Regions from separate parts of the Homo sapiens genome. Here region 1 is linked to region 2. The links come from fine-mapping of genetic effects on gene expression. A gene starts in region 2. The other region holds a variant in brackets. All regions are shown on one strand. Distances are from middle to middle.

Evidence for each region.
Region 1: its variant is fine-mapped to the expression of DARS1 in monocytes after LPS (Fairfax 2014, PIP 0.95). The same link has a PIP of 0.9 or more in monocytes.

Annotation. Positions count from the first base shown.
Region 1 is chr2:135,792,437-135,795,349 of GRCh38, reverse strand. It overlaps LCT (lactase), which reads left to right. Exons shown (of 17, transcript NM_002299.4): 14 at 575-709. Among named protein-coding and RNA genes, the nearest start is that of LCT-AS1, 26 kb to the left of the region's middle. The variant TG/G (reference allele first, on the strand shown) is at 1,378.
Region 2 is chr2:135,984,107-135,986,966 of GRCh38, reverse strand. DARS1 (aspartyl-tRNA synthetase 1) reads left to right here and starts at 1,341. Exons shown (of 16, transcript NM_001349.4): 1 at 1,341-1,564. The coding sequence starts at 1,499. DARS1-AS1 (DARS1 antisense RNA 1) reads right to left here and starts at 1,791. Exons shown (of 4, transcript NR_110199.1): 1 at 1,451-1,791. RefSeq lists an enhancer at 1,495-1,594 and a silencer at 1,645-1,704.

The sequences.
Region 1 (2,913 bases), 190 kb after region 2:
TGTAGTCCCAGCTACTTGGGAGGCTGAGGCAGGAGAATCACTTGAACCCAGGAGGCGGAGGTTGCAGTGAGCTGAGATCGCGCCACTGCACTCCAGCCTAGGTGACAGAGCCAGACTCAGCCACAAAAAAAAAAAATTATACAAGATCTAACTTTACAAACATAGGGGAAGAGTCTCAGATATGTACCTCAGGCATGCTCTTGATTTTGAAATCTGTCATAGATGCTAAATATCAGAATTTGCATATGTTGTTTGAAGGAAATTAAAAACTGTTTATGCATGTGTGTGTGTGTGTGTGTGTGTGCGCGCGCGCGCGTGGGTGCGTGTGTGTGTGGTCCTTCAGGTTTCAGAGGCTCTTGTAGAGACCTAGGGAAGCCAGGTTTATGGTCTGGCTGGAGGAGCCGCAGTGCTTCCTGCACCGCCTGAAGGACCTCTTCTCCTTCCCTGCCAGTTTCCCCTACTCACTGCCAAGTGCCTGGGGTTCGGAGAGCTCCCCCGCCCCAGCCCTATGACGTTCTCTTCTCAAAGCATGGCTCTCCCTGAAGCCCTGCCCTCAATGGCTTCTTCCACCCAGGCTGCCAGAATTTACAGAGAGTGAGAAGAGGAGGATCAACGGCACCTATGACTTTTTTGGGTTCAATCACTACACCACTGTCCTCGCCTACAACCTCAACTATGCCACTGCCATCTCTTCTTTTGATGCAGACAGGTAAGTCCACCAACAGGGAGCCCGGAGCCATCTCTGGAAAAGGCAGAAAGGTGCCCTTGGCTGTGCTCTCTGAGGCCTGCCCAGCCTCAAAACAGGGCCTCCAACGCCGAATGTGCCGGGGTTTGCAAGATGCTCGCCACCCCACAGATCCCAAGGAAATCTCCAGCAAGCAAGAGGGAGAGAAGGCCGGGGTCTCCAGGGCACCTCCCATTAGGGCACATGTGCTTGGCTTTTTGTTTTTTTATTTCATTTTTAAAATTTATTTATTTTGCGTTCTTTTTCACAGGCTGCTTAACTCTAAAAATGCTTGGTTGTTAAAAAGGATTTTCAAGAAAAAAATTGTTTAGGTTTTATCAAAATTCGCTTTAATATTAATAAATATTACAATAATACAAGAGTAAAATTTTATTTTCTCTTTTTAAACAATGCTTTTATGAAGTAGAGATAGTAAAAGATTTTGGTTCACCTTTTAAGTAACAGTTTTTATTTTATTTATTTTTTTTGAGACAGAGTCTCGCTCTGTCACCAGGCTGGAGTGCAGTGGCACAATCTTGGCTCACTGCAACCTCCACCACCCGGGTTCCAGTGATTCCCCTGCCTCAGCCTCCAAGTAGCTGGGATTACAGGCGCGTACCTCCACGCCTGGCTAATTTTTTTTTTTTTTTTTT[TG/G]TATTTTAGCAGAGACGGGGTTTCATCATGTTGGCCAGAATGGTCTCGGCTAATTTTGTGTTTTTAGTAGAGACAGGGTTTCTCCATGTTGGTCAGGCTGGTCTCTATCTCCTGACCTCAGATGATCCCCTTGCCTTGGCCTCCCAAAGTGCTGGGATTACAGGTGTGAGCCACTGCGCCCAGCCGATTGTCTTTTTCTTTATGATATCTATTTATCTAGAGACTTTTTCATCCATATCCTGTATTGTTTTTTAAATTTCTCTAAGTTAATTTTCACCTTTCTCTAGTACCTCCTTGAGTAGTTTAATAATCAACCTTCTGAATTCTTTATCTGGCAATTCAGAGATTTCTTCTTGGTTTGGATCCATAGCTGGAGAGTTAGTGCGACCTTTTGGGGGTCTTATAGAACCTTGTTTTGTCATATTACCAGAATTAACATTTCTGGTTCCTTCTCATTCAGGTAGACTGTTTCAGTGGAAAGATCTAGAACTCAAGGGCTGCCCCTCAGATCCTTTTGTCCCACAGGGTGATCCCTTGATGTGGTGCTCACCCCCTTTCCCTAAGGATGGGGCTTCCTGAGAGCCAGACTGCAGTGATTGCCATTGCCCTTCTGGGTCTATCCACCCAGCAGAATTACTGGGATCTGAACTGGTGCTGAGGAATGTCTGCAAAGAGTCCTGTGATGTGATCTGTCTTCAGGTCTCCCAGCCATGGATACCAGCACCTGCTCCAGTGCAGGTGGCAGGGGACTTAAGTGGATTCTGTGAGGGTCCTTGGTTGTAGTTTTCTTTCGTGCACTGGTTTTCTCAAACGCTGGTTATGCGAGCAGTGAAGTTGTCATGTGGACAGACTCAGGACCTCTGGTTAGCCAGGATGTTGCAGGCAGTGGAATTAGTTGTTGTTTTCTCTTTCTTTGGAGCAGGGTTCTTCTGTTATGAGTTGCTATAATGGCGTGAGTTGGTTGGTCTCCAGCCAGGAGGTGGCACTTTCAAGAGAGGAGGTGGCACTTTTGAGGTGCTTTCCCCTTCCACTGCCACCAGCTGCGGTAGTAGAAGGGGGATTACAAGGTTGCCCTACGTTGGCCAGGGTATTTGGGTTTCTCAGGTTATGGGCGGGGCCATAGAGCTCCCAAGAGTTTATGTCTTTTGTCTTCAGCTACCAGCAAAGGTAGAGAAAGACCATCAGGTTGGGGCAGCATTAGGCATATCTGAGCTCAGACTCTCCTCGGGTGAGGCTTGCTGTGGCCACTGTGGGGGAATAGGGGGCTGGTTCTCAGGCCAGTGGAGTTCTGTTCCCAGGGGTATTATGGCTTCCTCTGCTGTGTCATACAGGTTGCTAGGGAAGTTGGGAAAGCTGGCAGTCACAAGCCTCACCTAGCTCCCATGCAGCCAGCAAGGCCAGTCTCACTCCTGCTGTGCCCTGCCAACAGTGCGCAGGGCAGAGATCTCACCCCAGGCCACAAGCCTTCTCTCTGAGAAAGCAAACAGGGCTTTCAGGCCTTGCCCCTCCCCACCTGCCCACACTGTTGGCTGTGG
Region 2 (2,860 bases):
TGAGGCAATCCAAGTTTTAAAAAAAATTCCAAGATGAAGCAACTTCACAGACCCCCTTCTGTATTCGAATCCCATGAGTATAATGGGATGCCTTTTTTAACGGAATGTGATACTGATCATGAATATTCAGTGTTGCTCCCCAAGGAATGAGTAAATTCTCCTGCCCCCATGAACTCAGGAATGACGATGTGACTTGTTCTCGCCAATAAACTAGGAGAATGTGAAATGTGTCACTTCCAGGCAGCCATTTTAAGAGCTAAATTCTCTTCCTGACTCTGTAATAATGGAAGCATGTATCAAGATGGCGCATCTATCAGCCTAGGTACCTGTGTAATATTAAGAACAGGAACTAGGACTTATCTTTTTATTGCCAGCACCTGATAGAATGCCTGGCACAAAGTAGATGTTTGTAAATAATCTTTGATCAATTAAATAGGGAATAAAATTTCATACCACCTGCAATTAGAAGGAAAGCTACAGGCAAGCAAGGACCATGGCTGTCTTCTCACTACTCCATGGGGGAGCCTCCAGAGAGAGCCTTTCACTTGCGCTGGGATCTATGTGCACCCCTTAACACTTTGTGCCAGACTAAGACACTACCAAGTCAGTTGAAACGACGGAGTGCAAACTCTGGCAGGGGAAACAGTATTAAACCAAATCTCCAAATTATTTTCAATTTCGATTCAAAACTCATGAATGATAGCTTTTTTAAAAAATCAGTTTTTTAAAAAAGCCTAACTTGGGGATATTCGCCCATTGGGCAACCAACACTATGCACTGTCCCTAACACTGCAACAGATCCAGGCAATCAATGCAATTGTATGCGTTTCTTGTTGTCGTTGCCACTGTATTTACACCTCACTTACACAGGGACTGGTAACCCATGCTGCCTTGGCAAGCCAACTGCACTCCTCTGTCCCAACAAGCAGGGCAATGGATTGCGAAGAGGCCTCCTCCGTCCCCAAGCAGCTACGTCGCCCAGGGGAAGAGAGAAGGCGGGAAAGTCCAAGAGAGGAGAAACCAAGGCCCGCGCTTAGGTGGGTGTTTTAGTGACGAGTCTGCGGTTACAGCCGAGCGGAGTTGAAAGGGCTGTTAGAAGAATGGAGCAGAAGTCGCAGTTGGGACGAAGCTGAAGAGAGCTGGCATTCGCCCAGGTCTACAGCCAGCCACCTGGTAACCCCTGCCCCCGCCCCCAGAGCCAATCCAGCGAAACTACCGCGAATTCCCGGGAATTCCCTCCAACTCCGGGAAAACTCCCGGAGGGGCGGGGCAAGAGTGGGAGGAGACCCTGCGCGCGGCCGCCAGCGCTCCGGGATCTCGAGATAGCCGCAGCTCTCGCGATCTTTCTGGAGCCGCACCTCCACGCGGAGTCCGAGCGCGTGTGCTGAGACCCCAGGGTCGGGAGGGCGGAGACTGGGAGGGAGGGAGAAGCCCCTTTGGCCTGCCTTACGGAAGCCTGCGAGGGAGGGTGGTGTCCACTGCCCAGTTCCGTGTCCCGATGCCCAGCGCCAGCGCCAGCCGCAAGAGTCAGGAGAAGCCGCGGGAGATCATGGACGCGGCGGAAGTGGGTTTCCTCCTTTCCTGGGCCTGGGAGGACAGACCCCTGGGCCGGGCTGCGCCGAGGGAGGGAGGAGGGGGAGTGGGGCCCTACAGGTCCTTGTCGGCACGTTCTCCGCAGGCTGCGGGCGTGGGGTCCGGGCGCCTAGAGCCCTTGCCCCAGCAGTGGGGCCAGACCCTCTCCGGACCGCGTTTCTTGCGGGGGTCACCTGGGAGTTTGGCCTACTAGAAGCGTGTCCCCGGGGTGGGGAGGACGGGAAGAACCAGCCGCCCCGGAAGTAGGAGCGCGGCGTCACACTTGAGTCTCTCTGGGTTAGGCACGTCCTGCACGTAATGCACAATCCCTGGGAAAATTTTAATAAGCACTAGTAATCGATATGTACTCAGCCCTCGTGTTCCTAATGCTTTAGCAAGTAATGACAGTACTTAGCAAAACCATCTGCCAATATGTTTAATGACCATTTCCCATGTGACAGCTTTAAAGAACACATGTCATTTTTATTTACTTTCTCCCTCTCAGTGACCCGGTAAGGTAGGTAATAGGAGTTACCGAGAATGCATTTGAGGTGAAGTGACCCCAAATCACGTGGATAATTCATAACACCCAGTGATCCTTCGGTGCTTTTCAGAAATCAAAGTTTGAAACCATCCTACAAGTTATGTGTGCTGTAGTACTGTTAAGCCTTAATTTCCGTCTGGCTCCCTAATTTTTCTATAAGGAGTTCTGAGTTTGTGGTAAGCAACATGAGAAGTAAGGTCATCTTAGAATACTAAATGAGGAAGAGTCACTGAAATATTAATAGTACTAATTATGAATGCAACTTTTTTGTCCTTCACACAATTTAATCTCCTTCTGTTGCCCTCAGGCTTCATTGTGTGACTGTATCTCTCTACTCTGGCCAGGGTTATCTTTTTCTTTAAATTGTTCAGTAAGCGCCTTAAACATGTCTGGTTTTATTTTGGTGTAAACACAAAATCCAGCACCCTCCTGCTCTAAAGGAGAGGATTCCAACAGGTAGCTGTAAAGTGACAGAAACTTAATTGTTTCATACAGATCTTAAGTTACCTTGTAAAAACTAGGGCAATTATTTTTGTGTACTCTTAATCTGCTTAATTACATAAACTATCAGTGTACCCTTACAGATAGTATAGGTCTAGATACAAGGTAGACATTGTGGCAGAGTTATGCCATTTTATAGCTAGAAGAATCTTAGATCATTTTAGAGGTAAAGTAAGATTGAAATAAAGGCCACTTATCTATTTAATAAGTATATTTTGTTAACAGATTGGACCCTAGGTCTTC